Homo sapiens: one gene and its partners. The protein of the gene in region 3 interacts with the protein of the main gene of each other region in a pairwise test. Each region holds a gene or a part of one and is shown on either strand. Other genes may lie near its edges.

What was found.
Region 1: the proteins of GOLGA7 (region 3) and FAM72D interact in binary tests that used the Homo sapiens proteins (3 or more experiments, as listed by UniProt).
Region 2: the proteins of GOLGA7 (region 3) and NCALD interact in binary tests that used the Homo sapiens proteins (3 or more experiments, as listed by UniProt).
Region 4: the proteins of GOLGA7 (region 3) and GOLGA3 interact in a two-hybrid assay, tested with the Homo sapiens proteins (one study listed by BioGRID).

Annotation. Positions count from the first base shown.
Region 1 is NC_000001.11:145,091,695-145,099,001, forward strand, and holds the start of FAM72D (protein FAM72D), read left to right. Parts: upstream 1-4,279; 5' UTR 4,280-5,153; coding exon 5,154-5,305; intron 5,306-7,293; coding exon 7,294-7,307. Other genes in the region: SRGAP2B (SLIT-ROBO Rho GTPase-activating protein 2B), read right to left, coding at 1,141-1,207.
Region 2 is NC_000008.11:101,780,953-101,787,987, reverse strand, and holds part of NCALD (neurocalcin-delta), read left to right. Parts: intron 1-1,935; exon of another isoform or gene 1,936-2,133; intron 2,134-7,035. UniProt on the Homo sapiens protein: May be involved in the calcium-dependent regulation of rhodopsin phosphorylation. Binds three calcium ions.
Region 3 is NC_000008.11:41,507,570-41,511,503, reverse strand, and holds the end of GOLGA7 (golgin subfamily A member 7), read right to left. Parts: intron 1,921-3,934; 3' UTR 524-1,920; downstream 1-523. UniProt on the Homo sapiens protein: May be involved in protein transport from Golgi to cell surface. The ZDHHC9-GOLGA7 complex is a palmitoyltransferase specific for HRAS and NRAS.
Region 4 is NC_000012.12:132,783,836-132,790,870, forward strand, and holds part of GOLGA3 (golgin subfamily A member 3), read right to left. Parts: intron 5,456-7,035; coding exon 5,192-5,455; intron 2,953-5,191; coding exon 2,858-2,952; intron 2,721-2,857; coding exon 2,504-2,720; intron 473-2,503; coding exon 329-472; coding exon of another isoform or gene 191-328; exon of another isoform or gene 33-190; intron 1-32. UniProt on the Homo sapiens protein: Golgi auto-antigen; probably involved in maintaining Golgi structure.

The DNA of each region.
Region 1 (7,307 bases), on a different chromosome or scaffold from region 3:
AAAGGTCTCCTTGCACTGGTGCAGGGAAAGGAGGGGCCCCTCCCTCTGTACTCTGAAACAAAGGAAAACCCAGAGCTCCAACCATGTGGTGTAACATTCAAGGCCACCCACCTCTTCCACTCCCCAGCTAAGGTCTCAATGGGCTGGAGCCACATGGCTCTTTCCAGTGACTGACCAGGAAAGGACAGTGCCTTGCACAAACACATGCTGCAGCTCTTTAACAGGCAGGAACCCTTCCTATGGGAATTGCTGGTTTAAAAAACGCTATCTGAGTAAGGGCTCTTATTCATGAGTCAAGTCAGTCGACTAGATGAGAAGACAGGTCACTTGGTTTCTCCTAGTCCACACTTTGCTTTACCCTTCACATTTTTCAGGAGAGGGAAATGGGGCTTTAAAAGCATGTCTTCCGGAGCAGAGGGCCACAGCACAGAAGGGTTAAACAATTATGTCTTCCCATTTTCCAGAATCAGCACCAACCGGCTACCCTAACATCCTCCCAACTCTATTCAGATTTAGGTGAGGGCGGAGACCGGGCGTGGGTGGCCTTATTCTCTGATCTCTGATTGTATGCAGGCCGACCAGAGACCAGGCAGGTACAAGGTACACCCAAGGTGGCAATGGACTTTTGGTGCCAATGCCATTGCAAATCTCATGTTTTAATATAGTGCATCCAAAAAACCCCGCCTCTCCCAAGGCTCTCCAAATGGTACACCTTCCCAAGGTTGCCTTTCTGTCTGGACTCCTCTTCAATCTCTGAAACAAATGTCCAAACACCTGTCAGATTTCAGTTGTCTTTCAAGGAAACCTGACCCAGAGAACCGGAGGCAAACTGCCTTTCTCTAAGAGCCTCCTGCCCCTCCCCCCACCCTGCCCGGCTTGGGGGGAAAGGGCTGCCAAAATCATGGTCAGCCCCACAAAGATACTCCTACAGCCCACTGCAAAAATTCCTTTCCAGTGTCAATGGCCCCCTGGCATTGCCCATCCTTTGGAGGTTCAGACCCATCTATGAAACCACCTCTGGGGTCAGCCTGCCCCCATCTGCTCCACCCAAAGAAATGAACAACCTGCAAATCACGGTGGAAATACACGCCTCACCAGTCCACAGAGCATTTGCAGTGTGCTATTTTTCAAAACCCTTACCTTTGACCTGAGTATCGTACTCTGCTATGATCTCCTTATCCTTTTTGAATTTGGCTGGAGACGTCATGTTTTCCTTCTTTCTTCCAAATTCGAATTGTGAATTGATAGATCCACGGAAAAAATCCAACCACCTAAATCAATACCTCCAAGACCGCTTCTCTCGAGGGCAGAAGGGGCCCCCCACGGTGGTCTCCAGCGCTCCGTGGAGCGCGGGCTGCGGGCTGGGCAGACGGCTACGGCGGGCACATGCAGACGGTGGGCGCTGAGGCCGGGTGCGGCGGCGGCTGGTGCCTGTGCTAGAGCCGGAGCCGCAGCCTCAGCATTAGCCGGGAGAACTGCAGCGCCCGGAGGCTGGCCTGGGGTCTGACATCAACGACACAGGCGGGGAGTGGAAGTCCTTCCGCACAACATGGTGTGGGGCTGCGGGGGTGTGGACGCGCCCAGCTGTGTCCCCGGGAGGGAGTGGGTGCTTTTCGGGGTGCCGGGGGAGGGCTGGGCGTGCTTCGCGGTTTTTTGTCGTAGAGGCTCAAAGATGCTGCAAATCAAATCCCAAACGGGAGCCGCAACAGCGCAGACTGGATCGGAAGTCGTTTGCTCCGGTTCACTTGCCTGTAAATGCAGGAAAAGGGGGAGGGGGCGATCAGCCAGAGCGCAGATCCTAATCGCGGCGGGGGTGGGGTAGGGGACGTCGTTCCGAGCCCGCCCTGGGCCCATTCCTGTCCGCTTAACGTCTCCCCGCCCGCAGAGCCTGGCGCTACGAGGTGGGGAGGAAGGAAGCTCCCTCCGGATTTTAAGGCTGAAAGAAAACACTTTGGAGCAGCCGCCTGCGCGGGCTCCGGGCGGGAACTGCAGGAACGCGGGGCACCGGGCGGGGAATGCGGCACCTCGGCGGCCTGCTGAGCCCCGCCAGCGCTGGGCAGCGGCCAGCCCGAGGGAGCCCTCCCGACCTAGCCCCCGACGTGGCCCCAGACCCCCGGCCGGGGCACCTCCCTGTACATCAAAGGGGATCAAAGCCGGGGAGGGACAAGCCACCAGGGCACAACTTTTCTTCCTCTCCCGCCCCTCCTCCCAGTTGTTTTGTTTTTGGTTACTAGCTTCTCTTGGCAGCAAAATGTTGATGGGGGGGCGGGGCAAATCTGCAGGAAAAAGCCTGCTCGGCACGGGACACATCCAGGAAAACAATGTGGTCAGCTGAAGCAGGAAACGGGTTAGAGGATAGGGTCGGAGCCGGGAAAACCGGGGGGCGGCGAGCGGAAGGCAGCCGTCGCCTCCCTCAAGCTAGGGACGATAGTGACTATAAATGCCACCCCCAATATTTTTTTGACACCCAAGCTCAGAGATCCCAGATATCCCACCCAATCCCAGGCTGGGGATGGGAGGAGGTCGGTGAGGTCGCAGTCCTGACTCCTCGCACCAGGCGGTGCCCGAGAAGATCCGGCCCCGGACGAGGCCCAGGGGGCTGGAGGGACGCAAGCGGGAGCGCGGAGCCCGGCGACTAGCTCCCTCGCGTGCCGCAGCGGCGACCCTTTCTACTTGGTCTTTCCTTTTCCTCCGAGCGCCGGGAGGAGGAAGCTCCCGCTAGCGTCTCCCACTTCCCGCGGCTGGAGGAAGGGGCCACGCTGAGGGAACAAGACAGGGAGCAGAGGCGGCGGGGTTCAGGCGAGCGGGAAGCGGGAAGCGAGAGGCGGGTGTGAGATGGGGTCCTGAGGCTGGAAGGGAGCCCGGGGACAACTGGAGTTGCACACGCTCGGAAGGCGGGAGGCGGCAAGGAGAAGGCTGCCTTAGAGGTGAGGGGAATTGGGGCATGATCATGGGCCGCGATGTTGCGTGAAGCGCAAGGATGTCAGGAACTGTGGGGGCCGAGATGTGGTCTAGGGATGGGAGTGGGCGAAGAGAAGTCCATCGGGGCGGGCCGGGGGGTGGGACTCGGGGAGAGCCCCGGAAGCTGCGCGGAACACCCATCCTCCTGGGTCCTAGGCTGGGACCCGGGCTGTCCGCCAGGGCTGGGAGACACTGGAGGAGGCCGGCCGATGATTACGCGCGATGCCAACGACGACTGCCCTACGGTGGACCGCGGCTGCCCGTGTGCGGAGGAAAGGGAGAGGCGGCTGGGTGCCGGCTGCGCTGCGGTCCGTGAGCCAGGACAGAGTCCCAGGCTGTACAGTGATGGGCGGAGAGACTCGCAGTCCTGAGAAGTATTATGGGCTGTACTGGGAGATTTGGAGAGGGTGGAGGAGGGGCGGTCTGAGGGATTCCGGGCGGCACCGCTAAGGCGATGCCGCGAGCAGCATCCGCGCCCTCTCCTTCCCGCCCCAGCCCGGGTTTGTTCAGTCAGGGCTCCAGCCCGGCGGCCGGGAGGAAGAAAAGGAAGAGGGAAGGAGCCTTTACCTGGCTCTGACGCGACGGGTCCCAGGCCCCCGGCTCCGCTTCCCACTCAGAGCTCTCCTCCCCTCTCTTCCCCGCCACCCGTTTCTACGCAGATCTGTGCCCCAGTCCCTGGAGGAGCCTCCGCCAACTCCGCAGGACCCCGCCGGGAAGTAGAGCCCACCCCTTTACCAATCACCGCCCGTTTTCTATCGACCGATGGGGCCCATAGCCAATAGGAAGAGCTGATCCCGAGAGGCCCGGAATGAGGGGGAGGAGCTGGCAAAACTTGGAGGTGTGACTAGCACTGCCGAGGCGTGGTCACAGATTAAGCTCCACCCCGGGTTGTTGAACCCCTAAGTAGAACTGATGGGCGGGATTAAGGTGGAACCGACGACCAAACACAAACTCTTGAGCTGAGGCACGGCCAATTGGGCCGGGGTAGAGAGGAGGGGTGTTGCGGGGAATTTTAACCAATAAAGAGTAGAGACCGGTGGAGACTGTAGACCCTCTTCCAATAAGAAGCGGGAAGGGCGTGCCTTGCCACTTTCACTAGGGCTAAAGCAGGGTTTGCCGAAACCTCCCGAAGCCGGCCAATGAGATCGGAGGCGGAGCCAAGCTCAGCCGACCAGAAAGCCGAATTGATCTCAGCACCGTTACTGGGGCGGTGCCTACGGTCTTCAAGCCACTAAGCTCTCGTGAGGGGAGGCCCCGGAGCCTTCCAATGAGGGACTGGGGCTAACTCTAGTTCTTCCAATCGGTGCGCGGCGCTGGCAATTCAAACTGATACCGGGTTGGAGAGGCAGGAAAAGCGGAAGAGGGAGCGAAAACCAACGTGTTCGGTGACAGACCCCAGCGCCGACTGAGCCTCTAAAGCGACTTCAGCTCTGCCCCACCAACACCACCGCGCGCCCGGGAACAGCCGCTCCGGGAAGAAACCTGAGGGGACTGCGGGGGGCACGAGGGACAGCTGAGGGAAGGGAGGACGCGAGAGAAACAGCGCGAGCACGCTGAGGGCCGGGGGTTGCCAGGAGAGGGGCCCGCGGACCCGCAGAGCGGAGGAAGGTCCGGGAGAAAAGGGGCGGGACGGAGGAGAATCCGGGATCGCCTGGCAGAAAAAGAGAAGGGAGTTTCTGAATCCTGGGAAGAGGAGGCGTGGGTAGGGACGCTTAGCCCGAGATCCGACAGCAGGGAACCGGAGCGCTCCGGGGGAGGGGCTTAATGCTGGGGAAGGGATGTCTTAAAAGAGGAGAAGCTTTAAATTAGACGATCGGAGAAGGCTGAGGGAATTGCTATGAAGGGGCGGGAGCTGAAGTGTAGAGGACTCCTTTAGACAGCAGAAAGGGAAAGCCGTTGAGAAGTTCCCTTCAAACTCCACCTGCCTCCTCTCCAATTCAAACTCCACTCCCTTCTCCAAAAGTTAAAAGGAAAGCCAAGTTTACCACGCTCCCCTGTTCCTACTCAATAAATACTTCTTCTACTCCGCCACCGGGAAAACAGAAAAAAAAACTAATTTCCTTCCCAATATTAGGACTTAGAAAAGCTCTAGGTCCCGCAATTTGAATTTTAGCCTAGGGGAATCAAAATAGTAGGAGCATTACTCTTGTTTCCTTTTTCAAAATCCCACACCTCATCCTTCCTGCGACGCCATGTCCACCAACATTTGTAGTTTCAAGGACAGGTGCGTGTCCATCCTGTGTTGCAAATTCTGTAAACAAGTGCTCAGCTCTAGGGGAATGAAGGCTGTTTTGCTGGCTGATACTGAAATAGACCTTTTCTCTACAGACATCCCTCCTACCAAGTAAGTCATGCTAGTGGCGGGCAACGGTAGCTTTTAACTAAATGGGAACACTTATGGCTTGGATCTGTGGGAGTCAACAAGGAGGTTATCATTTCGGTGTTTCAGCCACTCCCACCAGTTTGATGATCCCCTTGTAATATATCTAAGTGGGCAGACTGTCTGGACAAAGTCTATGGTTTAGCCAAGGTGGTCAGTCCTGATGTAATGCTTCTAGTTCAATTGCAGTCATGCGACCACACATCTCTTAAGTTTGATCCCTGGTTCAGTGCCCTGCCCAACCATCCTATTTCACTGAATCAAGTCCGTGGCGTAGACTTTAGGTAAATTCAGGCAAAATTTTCTGTACTGTTGGAGAGGAGAGGTCATTTAAGTTTTTCATTTTTATCCATGAAATTTTGCACCAAAAAAAAAAAATCCGTTTTCTATCATTATTTGCAATTGGCATCCTAAATCAGATCCGTTGTTCATCAAATTCAGTTTTCTTTCCTCAAAACTCTCTCTCTCTGAAAGAGATGTAAATAGATTTTTATGGGATGAAAAATAGAGACTTAGCCTTAATCCTTATCTCCAATAAAGACTATTTTGGACATTACACATTTGTTCCCATAATTGAACCCTTTTAAAATCTGTTTGTTTTCAGCCACTAACTGCTTTTGGGTGTAGAGTCCTTAAGAATTTGCTTCCTATTTGGTAAAATAGCCATTTTATTTGACTCAAATAAACCTCTTTCTAGCTCTAAATGGTACTTTCCCTTTCCATAATCAACATATATATGCCCTACATGAATCTTCAAAATTTAGTTATTTATTGAAATTTTATTATTAAAAGGAAAGTAATTATCCAAAATATGAGTGGACAGTTATTCTCTAAGTCTTTGGATATAGAGCCAGAGGAAGCAGGTTAATAACCACAATTCATTTTAAATGAATTTCATGATAATGATAGAAACTTTACAAGTTTTTTGATTTACCCAGGTAAAGCTGTGTACTCTTCCTTTCTTGAAATCTTTTCTGAATTGGTCTAAGTGTAATCACGTCTAACAGCAAAGCCAAAGGCTCTCATTTATTGCAGAGATAAATGTGTTATTTTAAAATCTTTTTAATTTTTTTAAATTCTAAGTTAATATTTTACATTTGTGTGTGTGTACATCGTATATGTATTTCAAAAAAGGGAAAACACTAGAAAATAAATCATAGAACCTACTGCTACAAAGTTCTGTGATTCATTGTCCACTGCTTTTTCTTTTTAGTAGCTCATACACAAATTTAAAATATTAACCCATTCATCTTTGCAATAGCTATGGTAAGTAATAGGGCAGTCATAAGGAAGGCTAGGTGAATTGTTACAGGTTAGACCCAAGTCTAGAATAGAATCATGTTTTTCCTATTTTCTACCCTTCTTTGTAGGGGTTAAAATAATAATGAATTAGCGTGCTAAGATGTATGTGAATCAATGAACACATAAAAATTTTTTTAATGGAAAATTTGTCAGATGTTTATGTTGAGCTCACAAATATGAACTGACTCTTTAAAAATATACTATACTTCTATGTTAGCTTTCAGCTCTTTGGATTGACAAAATTTGTGCTAAATCAAGCGTAGAATTACTATCTGATCCAGCAGTTCTGGGTACATATCCAAAAGAATTCAAAACTGGATCTTGGAAGAGATATTTGCACACCCATGTTCATTAACAGCATTATTCACAATAGCCAAGAGGTGGAAGCAATCCAAATGTCCATTGATTCTACAGATGAACAGATAAACAAAATGTGGTATAGGGCGCCTATAGTTCCACCTACTCAGGAAACTCTGGTAGGAGGGTCACTTGAACCCAGGAGATTCATTACACAGCAATGTGATTATATTTAACACATCTGCTCTGCACACATAAAACTTGTTAAGTTGGTAAATTTTGTTAATTTTTTGCCACAATTAAATTTTTTGTAAAGTACATCTGACTGTCTTTTTATACCTTTCTCTCTCCAGCGCAGTGGACTTCA
Region 2 (7,035 bases), about 60 Mb from region 3:
CAGGGGTTAAGAGGAAAACTCATAGTGTTAGTACAAGTTATGCGAGTTAAAACCATGGGCCACAGAAGGTAGTTCATGTGCTCATAGCATTTGAAGCAAGCATTAAAGAATGCATGTGGCTTTCCAGCTTAATGTAAAGCACATACACGTGTGAATTGATCAATTGTCATGTTAATTCCAGATACTCAAGAGAGAGCCCTAAAGGTTTATCTGACAGAGGTCTCTAGGATGAGGCATGTTTGAAATTAAGCTGGAAGTGGAGACACTTCCCAAGTATCTGAATGCAGAACCTTATTTGGCTTATTGGATATTTAAGACCAATACAGGGGGTATTAATAGTATTGTTTAGTGTGACTTATGTAAGTAGTTGTCTCATTCAACATGTTTCTTTAAATGTGCAGAAAATAGTGCCTGATATTCCTCTCCAAACCAACAGCGTAACTTTGCAGTTGGTCAGCTGCCGTCACAGCCCTATATTCAGAATGTCCAAAGTCATCCTTTCTATGACATCAACACCCACTGTCTCCGCGTAAGAGAATGGGAGCTATGACATTTTGCACAAGCTGTTGTTTAAATTCAATCCAAATCCCTCGCATTTGAAATGGAAGCTTAGCAATTTGTCTTCGTGTGTTCTCAAAGGAATTACGAAAGAGATGTTCTCAAACGTTTCTTATTCTTTGGATTAGAAAAGAACACTTGCCTTGGGAGCTTTGAGTCTCTAGCAACTTGATAAAGAAACTTGGAAAAAGTTTAAAATCTCTGACTCCAGGCTGTACTGTTTGCTTCTCAAGCCAGGTGTTTGAAACTTTTCAAAAAGGAATGTGCCATTATTTTTCATAAAATCCACATTTATTTAACTGGTGCTTCATGATGGAAATCTAACTAGAAATAGCATTCCAAAATGTAGTATTTTTTATTGTTTTCAGAAGTGATACCATAAAAGTTAATGTTCACTAAGATTTTGATATAAAAATTATATGATAAATATTGAAATTCACTGGAGCCAAACTAAAAACAGTCTGCCCTTTTTATCTCAGTAGTGAACTTTAGGGGGTTTTTTGCATGTATTTTCATAAGTGCCTTTAAATAAAGACACGGCATCCCTTTAAAATTTAGTTTACATTAATGTAAACCAGAATATTCTCAGGTCACAATGCAGTTTTATATTTGATTTGTAGGAAATAAATCTCTAGCCTGAAAGACATTCCAGCTGTTGCCTGTCTTCATGGGAGGATTGTTCACATTTTCTGAATCTCTCCCAGTGACTGCAGGAAGACCAAAGGCTGCACATTGCTTTTATGCAAGGATGAATTTTTTTAAAAGATGATTTTGGATTTTGTTTGCTTTAATGAATTTAAGCCCTATCTATTAGAGGTAAATGTCAAGAAAACTGTTGTGTTCTTTGGCTATCTGCTCTGCTGACTCCCACAGACTTTGATATGATTCATATAACTCAAACCATGATCAGGTTTGTGACGACCATATTTACAATATCGTTGGAGATCAAAAATAGCATCTCACAAAAGTTTCCCCGTCCTATACCTTCCCACATCTTATCATGGATCATGTGCAGCACAGTCACTCAATTGGCGAACATTTATTAACGGACTACTGCATTCACAGTATTATAGTAGGCATGTGAGGTCCTCCCCTGATGGGATCCTCAAGTGAGATATGCTGCTGGCATAGAGAACCCAAGGGCCTTTATGGACCCTGGCTTTTGTTTGCTTGAGCTTTTATTCAAACATTCAGTCTTTCATGCATTCAGCAAATTTTGAGCACATACTACGTGTCAGGCATTGAGCCAGACCCCAGGGTTGCTATAAGGTACAAGACAGGGCAGGTCCCTTCCATCATGGAATATGCAGTCTAACTATGTAGAGAACTTGCCCAGAGACCTATATGTACTATTAACTGGGGTTCTCTTTCCCACAGCCACACTGGCCACTGCAGTCCAAAAGAGAATTCTAAAAGGAAACAGTACAAAACAGAACATCAAAACAAAACAGACAAACAACCTGGGAACCATTAGGTTTTACACCAGAGTGAAACCCCAGAAGAGACATTCTGCAGCTGGTGAACAGCCGGCCTCATTTGTGAGCAATCTGTTCCCATCAGTGTCAGGGATTCCAGGTCGGTATGCTCAGTCCTATTCCCAGTTGGCCAGAGGCTATTTGTCCTCTAGTTCAGAAGACAAATGAGACTGGTAGGGACCGACCTAGAGAGTATTTTCTTTTATGCAAATACCCTGTTTCATACAAATAATGAAAACCATTGTATTTTATGAAAGGAGTCTTTAAATTAGTGATATTTCCAAAAATATCTCTCCCGTCTTCCCTGTACTAACCCAGTCAGGACAGGGTCACTGCTGTAATAAATAGCCCCCAATCTTAATGGCATAATCCAACACTGTTCATTTTTCACTCACCCAGAAATCAGGATTGGGCGAAGGGCTCTGCTCCACACAGTCCTCCAGGGACTCAGGCTCCTTCTATCTAGTTAAACTGATCAGGGGCCTGTTTCTACCACTTGCTAGTGATACTCTGAGCAAGTTACCTAAATCAGAGTTTTCTTATGTGAATAATATTAGGGCATCCCTCTTGGATTTTTGAGTCAATTTACTTGGCATAGAAACTGACAGGTATTAGGTACTCAATAATGTGAACTGCTGTTATTAATCTTCTACTTCTGGTAGTGCTGCCACCACCATCCCCCGAGGAGGCAGGAAGAATCCGTCAGAATTGGAAGAGTATTATAATAATAGCTAACACTTAGGAAGCTGGATAGTCTTCAAAGTTCTTTTCAAAGTAACTATTTTTTAACAACATTCTAGTTTTATAAATGAGGAAATTGAGGCACAGAGAGCTTAAACAAATTGCTGAGTGTCACACAAGTATACAATAGAGCTCTAGGCATTTGGCTTCAGAGTCCTGGCTCTTTATTCACTATACTATATTGCCTTTCAACTTGGAATATACAGCAGAGCCTCAAATACCGTCATTTCATTCAACATCGTTTTGTTGTAATGTTAATGAGAAAAAATAATTGGTTTTGTTGTCAATGATGTTGTGAGGACTTACTATTATATATTGTATTTTCCCCAGAATTAATGTTATATGTTGTGGCAGATTGTATTCAAAAATAGCCTTACAATTGAATCCATTACCACATTAAAAAAATTTTTTTTTAGAGATGGGTTCTCACTCTGTTGCCCAGGCTGAAGTGCAGTGGTGTAATCATAGCTCACTGTAACCTCAAACCTGGGCTCAAGCAATCATCCCACCTCAGCTGCTTGAGTAGCCAGGACTATAGGCGTATGCCACCATGCCCAGCTAAATTTTTGTTTTTATTTTTATAGACTTGGGGTCTCACTATGTTGCCCAGGCTGGTCTTGAACTCCTGTCCTCAAGAGATCCTCCCACCTTGGCTTCCCAAAGGGCTGAGATTACAGGCATGAGCCACTGCATTACCATATGTTCTTCTAGAATCTTGCTCCTCTCCATCAGGAGGTGAAGTCTATTGCCCCTCCCTTTGAACCTAAATGGGCTTATGATTGGTCCAACTGATAGAGTACAGTGGAAATAATGCTAGGTGACTTCCAAGGATAGATCATAAAAAGAATACAATTTTTTTCTCTCTTGCTATTCTTTTTCTTCTTGACATTTTCCCTTAGAATCCAGTCACCATATTGTAGGAAACCCAGACCACATAGAGAGGCCAAGAGTAGGTATTTCAGCCAACATCTCTTGCTAAAGTCTCAGCCGACATCCAGCATCAACTGGCAGGCATGTGAGTGAGCAAGCTGTCAGATGACTCCAGGCCCGGTCATCAGGTCTTCCTTCCCCCTCCTGATGCCAGGGAATCACAGATGCACTATCCCTGCTGAGCTCTGCCCCAGGTTGCAGTTTCATGGACAAAATAAAAGTTGTTACTGTTTTAAGCCCGTAAGATTTGGGGTGTGGGGGGGTAATTTCTTAGGCAATCAGAGTAACTGGGACATTTGGGTAATTAGAAATGAGTGAAATGCCTGTGTAGAGGGCTAAACTTCAGGTACATATGGATTATTAAATAGACTTTTGTGATTTGGCCTAACCTAACCTAATTTCTGGAGGAAAATATATTTCTGTTACCAACCAAATTACAAATGAGCTTTTGGAAATTTGGAACAATGTCCTACAGGTTAATGCTGTTGCTGGTTCTAGGAAAAGATTTGGGCTACACTGAGGCCAGACTGCATGCCTTAGCAAGATCTCGCTCATTGGCCCCCACTGACTGGGACCCTCCCTGCAGGAGAGTGCAGTGTGGATGGCAGTACTCGTATCATCTGTCCTAGACCATCATAGGACATGCTCAGTCCTCCTTGTCCACTTTGTCTCCCTCTCCCATACCTACTCTGTCTAAATTGCTGCCTACTTTTCTATTGTTAGAAACTGCTGTATCTTTGACACTATTTTGGCCCATTTCCTATGCTTCTAGGGCAATGTTTTCTGCTCTACTGGTTTGTAGTAAAGCTAGGGTATTCTCCTTAGCCAGGTAAAATTTAGCTAATTCAACAAAATCTTATGCCTCTTAACAAAATTGCCAAAATGGCAGCTGTCCCATTGGTCTGTGGCTCCATGTGTTGGTCAAATCTAGCATTTGAAATCCTCAGAAATGTGGTCCTTGTGTCCTTACTCAAAGAGGCATCCCTTTCCCTTCTGCTGTAGAGAAATCAATGCCCCAACTCTCTTCTCACTTACTTAAACTTCACCCCATCCTAATAGTCTACTCCTCTTCCCTTAAGAAGACTCTCATTCATTTATTCATTCAGCATTTGTTAACTCTGTACAGTGAGCCCTAGAGTTAAGTGCCTATGAAAATATTCCTTTCATGTCCAAGGACTGCTAAGGTTTCTCCAGCTGTTCCTCATTTGCTTACCATAGACACAGGGCAGATGTGGTGCAATCACCCAGACTTTTCAATAACCGGGATATATCCCATCTCATCCAAGATATTTCAGCTAAGTAGGATACTGCATGAGTAATATAGGACCAGCCAGTCTTTGAAAAGGTAACAGTCTAGTTAGGAAGGCTGGATGGCATCTGCATTTGAGGGCCAGAGCTACGTCTTCCACACTGGCTACAACTTCCCACAGTGCCCAGCATCATGCAGGACATACAGTGCCTCCTCTTTACATCTCTGTTAGGTGATTAGTGAACAGATTAACCCCAGAGGATATATGGCATTGAGATGACTTTGGAGAGGAAGTGAGCTTTGAGTTGGGCCTAAAGGATAGAGAGCGTCTGGCATGAGGAGCAAAAGTGAAAGGATAATCCTTCATTGAGAAGCATGATGAGAACATTCTAGTGACAGAAATAGGACACCTCCCCACCTGGAGTCAAGAACATGGTTGGGAAAAGGAAAAAATATATAATCTATATGGTGGGTCCATGGAGGATCTAGGATTTATCCACTTAAGCTGGATTTGATCTGATAGACACTAGGAAGCTGGGGAAAGCTGGGAGCAGGGAAGTGATGTACATGTTAAGTGGGGTGAGAATATTTTAGTGACTCTGTTTCTTTACACAGCTCATTTAAATCCCTGAATATGTGCTAAGTATTTTTGTCCATTTTTCTCATAGAAAAGTTTTAACTTCTTAAATTTTAAGAAATGTGAATTATCTTTTGCCCTCCGTAGGTGTGAGTAGCCATTTTAACTTTAGCTGGGTTATATCCGTAGGCAAAGCTGTGTAACTTCATAGTTTTAAACATATAACCTATTACTCATCAAAGTCATACTCATATAAGTTCCAAACCAAATGAACAAGTCAAGCCTTTAAAACATTTTCTATAAAACTATACTATAATGAGTATACAATGAAAATTTATATAAATATATATTATATGTATATTTATATATATATAAAACATACAATATATATATACTGAAACCCCTGAGACACTGCACATTATTCTGAAAAATCTTTGAATCATGTCACCAATGAAAAATTAGGTTGTGTTCAGTGAAATTTTAGTTGTAAGTTATGAGTGCATTGCATTACATTACACCTGAAATCTTTGAATACTGATCATCAATATAAGTGTCTGGCAACTATCAGAATGTTCTTAACCAGAGCATGCCATCTTTAAGAAAAATATTATAAATTATACATGCAAAAAAGTGTATATAACATATATGTACAATACAAAGAATAATAGAAAACAAATCCCTGGGTAGCCAACAAAAACACCATCTGTTAATCATTCTAGTGAAGAGTAATGCGTTGATATTGATGATAATTTCACTCTAGTAGCACACAGATTAGTACTGTCCCTAAGGTCCAACACCAGAAGAAATTGAATCGGTGATATGTTTTTTAACTATTTGATCACATAAAGATTTTAAACCAGTTGAGTCATTTATTTCAGTCTCTGATGGTGAATGAAAGGTATGTTTTCCACTTACAAAACATCACTTGCTATTGCTGCTGGCAATTGTGAAGGTTTGTAAATTGGTTTTTGTGTCGAGAGGCCTTTGCCCCAAGGCCATTGCCCATGTTGTGCTCCTTGTCACCTCCCAGCTATTCAGGAGGGAATGGTGAGGGAACCCTTGGTGAGCCCTGAGCTCTTGGTACAAGATCTGTATACTTAAGTTATTTAAAATGAATATTAATAGAAGACTAACATAAGACTATCTGAGTATATTACTAGGACTAGAAAGTCTCCCAGGTTGAATGGGACAACGTGGTACCAACCTTGGTACAAGCCCAACTGCCAGGGGTAGTTAAAGCAAACCATTCTCTCTCTCAGGGTATATATATATATTTTGGTATATTCAGAATATATTTCACAAAATAGAAGCTATTTAACCATTAAAGATGCAATCTTTGGTCCAAATTCCACTTTGCAAAAGAAATTGTCATTAGATCTGTTTGTGCCCACCTTGAAAAATGTTGATCAACTTCCAATTTTTAAAGGTCGATCTGTTACTATTTAGAAATAGAACTCTCTTTCTCCTCAGACTGTCAAAACAGCCTACGGATTATAGCCAAGGAC
Region 3 (3,934 bases):
TCAGGCTTTGCATGGTCTCCTTCTCATTCTGGATGCCCCCCATTTCTGCCAGACCCCCAGCCATCTCTGTGGCCAGGCCCCCAGACCCCAAGCCGCCCCAGAAACTGGTAGAACAGGACATGGAGATCTGGGATCCCAAGCCCCCCAGTGCCTGCATAGATGCTGGCTGCGCTGCTGACCGGCCAGGTGCCATAGCTGGGCGGCTGGACAGAGCCCAGGGACTGGTAGTTGGTGGAGAAGGTGGAGGGAGTGGTGAAGCTCATGCTGTCCGGGGAAGAGAGCAGGCTTTGTCAACGACTACTCCTTAATTTTTACTTATAATATACCTGCTGTTGTAAGATAAAGCAGGTAAGAAATTGAGAGGTGTGACATAGAAATGTAAGATGTTTATTTTAAAACACTAAGCTACATTGTACGGTACACTACTACAATTCTAGTATTATCTGACAAATTTAGTGTCCTATCATTTACCACTTTACCATCATTTACTACCAAATCCCACCAAATATGACACAGAGACAACTTGTTTAAGAAAAGTTTTATTAATGTGTTAATATTTCAGCAAAGTTATTGCAACAGGTTGAAAATGCAGACACACTATTACAGGCTGTAAAGTAACAAATGAGTTTTACACAATTAAAATATTAACACATACTTATGGGATTTGTTGAATGACTAACAGACCCATAAAAGAAATTAAATCTGAGACGAAATCCAGTATTAGCACCTACAATATATCTGACAGTGAAACTTTTAATGGTTTCTCTCTCCTAATGTATTTTTAAACTCTCTCCCAAATACAGCGCTCTCAAACCCCAAGGATAAACGAAAGGCATAAGCAGCCCCGATCCTAGGAACGTACAGCCAAAAGCAGAGCTACAAATATGGACTCAGACTTGAGAGTTTTACTGAGAAGTAACTTACTGTACTTGAGCCAATCATAAGATTTCTGTGCACTGAATACTGTATATGAGAAAATTCTGTGGGTCATAAGGTTTGCCTTAGGGATAGTTAAAAATTAGTAATATACAGTATTATTCCTATCAAATTTTTTTCTCATAAGTTATATTTATAACAAAACTATAATTAAAATATTTTTTATACCTGCTTATTCCATATCCAGGGACACAGCGGGAACATTTATGTGTCTGATGGTTTGGCATCCACTTTATTGTGCTTACTGATTTTTGTGATGAACAAGCAGCACGTATCATATCTTTCCAACATTCAAGGTAATGGAACAATGACATAAAATTCTCCAAAGAAATAACTGGAAATTGCATTAAATACTGCTTTAATTAGGCATAATTGCTATAATAAAACAAATAACATTATACATTTTTTTTTCAATAAGCTTCAGTTTGAGGAACTGAATAGTAGAAACAGATCTTAAGATTTGAGTCATGGTAAAACCAGTAATTCTTTGAAATCTGGGAGGTGCAAAACGACAGCCACAGCCAACCCTCACCAAAATCCTGGAGAAAAACATTTTATTAATTTAGGGGAACAAGATAGAACACTGGTGAAGATACGGCTTGTTGAGGTCTAAAGCCACCTGAGAAGCTGGCCCAAGGAATGAAGAGAACCAATGGTATGTACTGGTGGCAGATAACAAGCTTTGCACTGGGCTGACCAACTGTGTTTTATTAAATGGCTTTGAATAAAAAAAAGTGAAGTGCTTCATTGTGTTTTCTCAGAAACTAATCAAAAGATTACAGAGTCCTACACAATTTGGAGACACAAAGTGGATGCTGAGCGACTAGAGGTCACTCCAGGTGTGGAATTTTAGAAAGTGAGTCCTTGGAGTAAATGGCACCGTGGCTCTGGCAGCAGATAGAAAGGAATGATGCTCTGGAGAGGAGGTAGGGACACTCTGCGGTCGGCCAGTGGATACATGAGGGGCCCGGCTGGAAGTGGGATCTGTAATTAGAGGGAGAAGTAAAGGTTTGATAGAGATCCTGAAAATAACTTGTAAAACCATTTTTCTTCCATCAACTGATATCAGCTTATAACATGTGGTCTATGTTCTACTAACCTAGAATTTTATCTACTAAAATATCTTGGTACCATTTGTCTAAATGAGTCTACAGCTCAATAGTCTACAAATCTAAGTCCTATATATTCAGATCTCTGACCAAGCACATCACCATGGAGCCACGCTGCCTTGACTGCTGTCTACTAGCTGTTTGTCCTTGGGCCAGCAACTTAAGTTCTCTCTGCCTCGGCTTCCTCATCTGAAAAACAGGGATAACAATATCTACCTCATAGGGTTGTTGTGATGATTAAAATTAAGCATTTAGAATAGTGCTGGCACAGATGTGCCAACAAACATTAGCTGTTTTTATTATCACTAGTTGTGATGGAATAATCATGTATTCCATTTTATATAAAGATGGCAATCTTAATCCAGAGAGAAAACACCAGTGCATGTAACAATAACAATGTGATAATAAAGATATATGCAAGATATTATAAAAATTAAGCTTAAAGAAAGGCATTTTTGTTTAAAGCTCCTTTTAAAAATAAAGGCCATCCTCATGTTTGTGTAGTCTTTTGTTAAGTCACTAATTCCCACATATTGCTTCAAATTGCAGACACCTTGCAGACTGAAGAAAAATGGAAGAATTGAATAAATTATGCTTAGAGTTTCCTCCCCTTCTCTAAGATCTCAGCTCACATTGCATCCTGGACCTTGGGAACACCCAAATCCCAAAACGAAATTGTGTTGAACAAAAATATCTGCATTCATGAAAGAGGGTATCCAGAAGTTATTAATGTAAATCTTTCCCATTTCAAAATTCTAGTTATTTGAATATTGATAGATTAGCCTCTGGTGTGTAATTGCTCAAACCTCACACATCAGAAAAACACATGATTACACAATAGCTGCAAAATGAGTCATGACAAATGGGCTGTGCCAAGTCATCGCAGCTGCAACTGATATACAAACCATGGCATGGAACAAAAGCCACACAGAAGGTTGCTGGTTGTTTGAGAAGTATCAGTTTGAAAATTGTACATGAGAAAGCGTATGGACAAGTAACACTAAGTATTCCAAAACAAAGCCTTTTTAAGGAAATACAACATATGGCAGAGGATAGATATCATGATTTAGATCTTTGGCTTTCAGGAATTCAGGTGACACATTCACTAGTGCTAAAGAAGGCAGCTCTGGAATGTTGCATGGCTTACAGGATTGAATAAATCATACAGGAGCAGACAAAATGTATTCTTTTTTAAAGTATTGAAAAAGAAGAGAAGGGGATAAACCTCTAGAATTATCTGATGAACTCTTCCCTTTCTCCATGTTCCTGCTGCTGCAAGTACTGAGAGGAAGTACGGTGTAAAAGACAGGGGTTTTATGATCAATCAGACTTGGGTTCATATCCCAATACTCGTTAACTGTGTGACTGTGAGAACATCATTTAATCTATTTGTATCCAAGTTTGCTCATCTATAAAATGGGGAAATACTTTGTAGGGTTCTTGTGAGATTCAGAAGTACCATTTGTACAATACCAGGCACATAGTACGTGCCCTCAAAATGGTAGCTGTTATTGATGTTGCCCTAGGAAGACATGTGTCTGCTTTGGTACATTCTGTGTCTGTGCTGTCTATTAATTAGTGACAGATACCTATAAGCACAGTCAACTAGAAAAGCGCAGCAGCAGAACACTTTCTGTAGGAAGACCACGTAACTAAAATTGGCAGAAATAGTGAAGTGCTACTTCCTGTCACTTAGAAGGCTATGCTAAAGTACTTAGGGCTTCAACGTGACTCTGCCTAGAGATTCTTAGTAGTATTAATTTGTTTCTTACTCATTAAAGGGCAGCATCTGGATATTTAAGGACATTAATACTTTAAACAAAGGAATGAAATTTATGTTTCTACTCAGTAGGTAAGGTTTCTTCCACAGGGGTCTGAAGCCACTTAAA
Region 4 (7,035 bases), on a different chromosome or scaffold from region 3:
AAAGTGCTGGGATTACAGGCATGAGCCACTCGCCTGGCGAAGTTGGGTTTCTTATTTGCAACCAAAGCATTTGAACTGAGAAGGGTTCCACTATGAATTCTGTAACCATTCCACCAAAGAGGCTGTACAGTGATCCTCCCCAGAGGGCTGGAATCAGGGCCTGCCCCACCACAGAGCCAGAGGCCGACGGTCAGAAGGTGGCAACACCAAAAGTAGCAACGCTGGGCACACGGTGAAGTTTTGTTCTTCGGGTCTCACGCGTGGCGGCATGTCCAGGGCTCACGTGACCTGCCCCACGCTGCCGCCACAGCAGATGGCCAGGCCTCACCTCGTCCTCCAGCTCCAGCACCTTCTCCCGGGACTCCTCCAGCTCCTGGCTGGTCAGCGCTATGACCTCCTGCAGTTCCTTTTCCAGCAGCGTCTTGCTATGACTGACAGCCTGCAGCTCCGCCTCCAGGGCCTGGATCCTTTCCTAAGGGCCAAGATGGAACGGGCGCTTGGTCATGGGACAGGCCCTGACCCCCCTCACTTCCTGTGGTGCCGGCAGGCATGAGGCTGTGTGGCTGCACACACCAGACACCAGCTGTCTGACACAGTCTCACAACCTTCCTTTTTGTTAAAGAAGTTGAATTAACCGACCACAGCATGCACACGATGACACACGGGGATAGTTGGGACAAACAAAATCATCTCTTCAGTTCAATGCTTCAAAAATACAGAAGAAAATCTGACCTGCAGATAATGGCTATAAATCACCATCTGTGGCAAGCAAGCAGCACCAGTTGTAATAAATACCACACACATGCTCACGCACCACACATCACATACACACACTCATGTAACACACACCACGTGCACATGTTCACATCCCACACACCACACACACACGTGCTCACACCCCACACGCACATGCTCACACCCCACGTGTTCACACCCCACACCACACATGCACATGTGCTCACACCTCACACTGCATGCACACATACACCCCACACTGCATGCACACATATGCTCACATCCCACACACCATGCACACAAACACTCCACACGCTGCACACACACATGCTCACACCTCACACATGCACGGATACATGCAGGCACAGGTGTGCTCTCACACCCCGCCCACTTGCTGCCTCGATGGTACCAGGCCCTTGCCAAGCATGTTCCAGTACCACCTAACTTAACCCTTACATGAGAAGGTTCTCATTCACCTCAATTTGGCCTCATTTTGCTGAGGATCAAAAAGGTGAGAAATTTGCCAAAAGTCACCACTTGCGAGGGGTGAAGCCCGGACGGACACAAGACATCGGCTCGCAGCTGTGCTATTCCTCAGCTGCAACAGCGTGGCGAGGGGCCAGCTCTGCCCGGCCTTTGCGACCTCCCCACCCCAGCCCTTAGTGAGCCCAAAGAAAATGGCAACTGAATCAATCTCCCCAACATTTTACAAAGCAACCAGGTGAGAGGAAGCACTTGATTTATTTATTGAATTTCAGACACAGAGTCTCTATCGCCCGGGCTGGAGTGCAGCAGCAAAATCATGACTCACTGCAGTTTCAGCCTCACCTCCCAGGCTGAGGCGATCCTCCCACCTCAGTGTCTCAAGCATCTGTGTCCACAGGCACGTGCTACCATGCCTGGGTTTTATTTTTGTATTATTTGTAAATACAGGGTCTAATTATGTTGCCCAGGCTGGTCTCAAACTCCTGTGCTCAAGCGATCCTCCTGCCTCAGCCTCCCAAAGCGCTGGGATTATAGGTGTGAGCCACCGTGCCCGGCCGAGTTTATTTGACAAGAAAACCCCACGTTATGATACAGTCTCTTCCTACCCATAAATTCTTAAGTGGACAGGAGATAGAAACAAACCACATATAAGAAGAAATACTAAGTTGTCAGTGCAAGGACGTGAATTGGAGAATAATAAATAAAATGCGGATGAACTCACTCAGGTAGAATGTTATGCCTACCACGAAAGGTGACAGAGCACGGAGGGCCACGGCCTCCACGGAAGGCTCTGCTCAGAGCCCTCCAGAAAGGGCACCCGCTTGTTCTGGGCCACCGCAGCATGGCTACCTCTAAACGCTCCCTGAACCCTGTCAATCGCTGACCCCATGCCCTCACTCCTGCTTCTCAGTGAGTGCGGAGGCTGCTTTTCCTCCTGAGATGCGAGGAGGCGCAGAGGCAGCTGGAACGCGAGCGGACCAGGGCAGGCCCTCCCTCTGCCCCAAGGGAGCAGCTGAACTTCTCTGAGCCAAGGAGATTTCTTGAGGAAAATCAGGTGAACGCCACAGGCCACAGGCCATGTGGGGTTCATGAGGGAGACGCGAGGCAATGCTCAGTCACTGTGGGTTCCTGGTAACCTGGAAGATGAGCGGGAGTTTAGAGAGTTGCCACCTCCCACGCGAGCTCGGCCCCGCTAGGCTTTAGGGGACAACTGCTGATGGAGAGCCCTTCCCTGCACTGAGGGGCTGGTGACCCTGGCCGGGGATGGCACGGTGTTACCTACATGTAGAGCCAGGCTGCTGTCACTGCTGCCACCCTGGGCTCGGAGCTGGCCCAGCTCCGCGTCCGCAGCCTCCTTGGCCGCGAGGGCCTCCTGCAGGCGGCGGCTGAGGATGCCCACGGCGTTCTCGTAGGCCTTATGTTTGGTCTTCATCTCCTTCTGGGCGCTGGTCAAGTCTGAGCCCAGCCGCCTCATCTTCTGCTTCTGTTCCGTGATGGCCCTGGGGTGTCATGAGGGAGACACAGGAGGAAGCTGAATTATCCCGATGTGACCGTCTGGCATTCTGGTTCGCCTCCCCCCCGGCCCCCGCACCTCCCACCTGGCCCCCGCACCTCCCCCGGGCACATGCAGACTTACTTCCGGGCCTCTTGCTGCAACTCTTCGATTTGTTTCTTCAGCGCCTCATTGGCCTCTGTGACCGCGACCATCTGCTCCTTATCGAACTGCAACGACTGTGGAAGGGAAGGAGGGCGTGAGGAGCGGCACTGCCACCCCCAGCCTGTCTCCCCTTCCTGGCTCCAGCCCATCACCCCCACCAAAGGCACTGCTCAGGCTCGCCCTGGAGGACTTGGGCCTTGAGAAAAATCCTGAGAGAGACGTCTGCCTTCTTACAAACCACTCTTTTTTTTTTTTATTGAGATGGAGTCTCACTCTGTCACCCAGGCTGGAGTGCAGGGGCGTGATCTCAGCTCACTGCAACCTCCGCCTCCCAGGTTCAAGTGATTCTCCTGCCTCAGCCTCCCGAGTGGCTGGGACTACAGGTGCCCGCCACCATGCCCAGCTAATTTTTGTATTTTTAGTAGAGACAGGGTTTCACCATATTGGTCAGGCTAGTCTTGAACTCCTGACCTCGTGATCCACCTGCCTCGGCCTCCCAAAGTGCTGGGATTACAGGTGTGAGCCACTGCACCCGGCCACAAACCACTCATTACTGAGACCAACAAGCGTTTCCAAACACTGTCCAGAGCATCAGAGGCACAACAGGACATGACTGGTTCATAGGAAAGCCTGTGGACCCAGGACCTCTCCTCCAAACCCTCAGGACCCAGGACCCCTCCCCAGGGCCCCAGGAACCCTCCCCAAGGCCTAGGACCCCTCCTCAAGGATCCAGACCCCTCCTAGGAAACCCCAGGACCCCTCCCCAAGAGCCCCCGGGAACCCTCCCCACAAGCCCCTGGATCCCCTCCCCACAGTCCCCAGACCCCTCCCCCAGAGCCCCCAGGACCCTTCCTGAGACCCCGGGACCCCTCCCCAGAACCCCTGGGACCCTTCCCCGGAGACCCCGGGACCCCTCCCCGGAGACCACGGGACCCCTCCCCGGAGACCCCGGGACCCCTCCCCGGAGACCCCGGGACCCCTCCCCGGAGACCCCGGGACCCCTCCCCGGAGACCCCGGGACCCCTCCCCGGAGACCCCGGGACCCCTCCCCGGAGACCACGGGACCCCTCCCCGGAGACCACGGGACCCCTCCCCGGAGACCCCGGGACCCCTCCCCGGAGACCCCGGGACCCCTCCCCGGAGACCCCGGGACCCCTTCCCGAGACCCCAGGACCCTTCCTGAGACCCCAGGACCCTTCCCTGGACCCCCCCCGGATGCCCTCCTCAGGATCAACTGTGAACACTGAGGGCCGCGTCCCCGACCTGCTCCTGCCCTCGCAGCCTTTCCCCAGCTCCTGTGTGCGAGGCGAGTCCCCACAACCAGCCCAGGCCTGCAGCTGTGGGGTCCGAACGTGCTCTGCCCGCACTGCTGAGTCCTCCAAGCCTCCTACAGTCCAAAGAGCCGGCCCTCCCCTTGGCCCACCTCCCCACCCCGGCACCAGCGCTAATCCATCAGCCCTCACTTTCCAACAATGATGGTGCCGGCCACACCGCCTACTCACAGGCCTCAGCCTGGCTCCTAATGAGCCAGACATGCTGACCAATCTGCCTGCTGGGACCTTGGCTCGGTCCTCTCCGGCAACTTCAGAAACTTCATAAGCAAAACGTAGCACTTGGTCTAACGTGCCATCAGACGACTCTCCCCAAATTTACTGTTGCTCTCCTGATTTCTCGTCTCACCTCCCGGTTCCTCAGCCTGGATGTCTGGACAGGATCCTGGACTGCGGCCTCCGTCCCCCGCCTCTACCCCTCACCTGCTCTGCTACCTGCAGCCGAGAAACTGTCACCAGCATCTCGGACACCCACTGTGTGCAGAAGCCAGCCCAGGCTCAGCTTCCACAGGAACATGACTAGCTCTGGTCAGTCCCAGCTCCGCACTCAGCCACGAGGGACTCCCAGGGTCCCCGGGCCCCGACGCCCTGCCCTGACGTGGGGTCTCCACAAAACACTCACCCTTGCTTTCTGCATGACAGCCGCTGTCCTCTCACATGCTAGATCCCGGGAGCCCATGGCAATGGGGAGAAGCTGGGTGCCTCACGGGGCCTCCTCACTCCCTCCCTTCATGCACCATCACCACCTGGACTTATCAGGCCTCACCGGACTGCCCCTCTGGGACCTATGCTCCAGGTGGGCCTTGTTCCCAGCTGTTCTTCCAAAAGCCTCTCCCACCTTGGCCCCACCCCAGACACAGGCCCCGACCCAGACAGACCCCGCCCCAGACACAGGCCCCGCCCCAGACACAGGCCCCACCCTCCCGACAAGCACTTTGGCCGAATCCTCCCCATCAAATGAGTCAACCCGACACGGACAGACCTGCAAGTGTGTTTCCATCTCGTCTCGCTCCTTCTGCGCCGACTGGAGATGCCCTTCAAGGTCCGCCATGTGCTGACGGACCTGGGCCACCTCTCTGTGCAGGCGCGAGAGCTCCGCCTCGGCAGTCCGCTTCTCCCCGTGCACTTGCATCAGCTCCTGCCGCAGCTCCTTCAGCTCCGAGTCCAGCCTCTTCCTGGTGGCTTTCAGCTCACTGATGAGCTGGTCTTTGGAGGTGGCGTCGCGCCGGTAGGCCTCCACCATCACCTGCCAAAGACAGAGGCTGTGAGCGGACGCTGGGCGGCGGGGCGTGGGGGGCGTACCTGGGGGTCAAGCTGGCTTCAACAAAAATGTTTACCACTTATCGGGGGCATAACTTTTTTGAGGTAAAGATACATTTCATCAAATCTAAGACTCCATCGACTGAGACACACCACTGTTTATCCACAGGTGACATCACTGCCTGTTGAGAGACTGCGTGGTGCACAAGGCAGTCACACCGGCCTCATAGACGTCTCCTCTATTCCAAGGAGTCTGGCTCTCTCCTGACTTCAGTTGCACGGCTTTGCTTCCAACAGGTAATCCCCTTGCTTGTGGCTCAGTAATAAAGCAAAGCAGGACTCACGACACCGCTTCAGGGGCCGCCCTTGCTCAGAAATAAAATACAGCAGGCCGGGCGCGGTGGCTCACACTTGTAATCCCAGCACTCTCAGAAATAAAATACAGCAGGCCGGGCGCGGTGGCTCACACTTGTAATCCCAGCACTCTGGGAGCCCGAGCTGGCTGATCACCTGAGGTCAGGAGTTCAACCAGCCTGGCCAACAAGGTGAAAACCCCATCTCTACTAAAAATACAAAAAACTAGCCAGGCGTGGTGGTGCATGCTTGTAGTCCCAGCTACTCACGAGGCTGAGGCATGAGAATCATTTGAACCTGGCAGTTGGAGGTTGCAGTGAGCGGAGACAGCACTACTGCACTCCAGCCCGGGCGACACAGCCAGACTCTGTCTCAAAAAAACTAAATTACAGGCCGGGCGTGGTGGCTCATGCCTGTAATCCCAGCACTTTGGGAGGCCAAGGTGGGCGGATCACGAGGTCAGGAGATTGAGACCATCCTGGCTAACACGGTGAAACCCCGTCTCTACTAAAAATGCAAAAAAAAATTAGTCGGGCGTGGTGGCCGGTGCCTGTAGTCCCAGCTACTCAGGAGGCTGAGGCAAGAGAATGGCGTGAACCTGGGAGGCGGAGCTTGCAGTGAGCCGAGATCGCACCACTGCCCTCCAGCCTGGGGTACAGAGCGAGACTTCATCTCAAAAATAAAATAAAATAAAATACAGCAGCGCTCACAACGCTGCTTCAGGGGTCACCCTCGCTCAGAAATAAAACACAGCAGCACTCACAATATAGCTTCGGGGTCACCCTTGCTCAGATCCCATAAAATCCAACAGGAGGTACTGGCTTCACTGACACAAAATTTATATTCCGTGTCTTTTTGGATAACCAAAATTTGTTTCAATGCTGGAACTCTATGTGCATTTTTCAAAGACATTTTAAATGGCAAACCCAACCTGTGTGTTAACAACACTGCACAACACACAGCTCCCTGGAGTGAGCACAACAGGGTATGCTGACAGGCGCTCCAGTGACAGCCGCCCCTGGAGATCTGAGGGGCCAAGACCCCCACCCCACTGTGGAAGTGTGTCTTGACTTTGCAGATTAAGTACCTTTAAAAAAAGTTAAAGAGGGCCGGGCGCGGTGACTCATACCTGTAATCCCAGCACTTTGGGAGGCCGAGGAGGGTGGATCACCTGAGGTCAGGAGATTGAGACCATCCTGGCTAACACGGAGA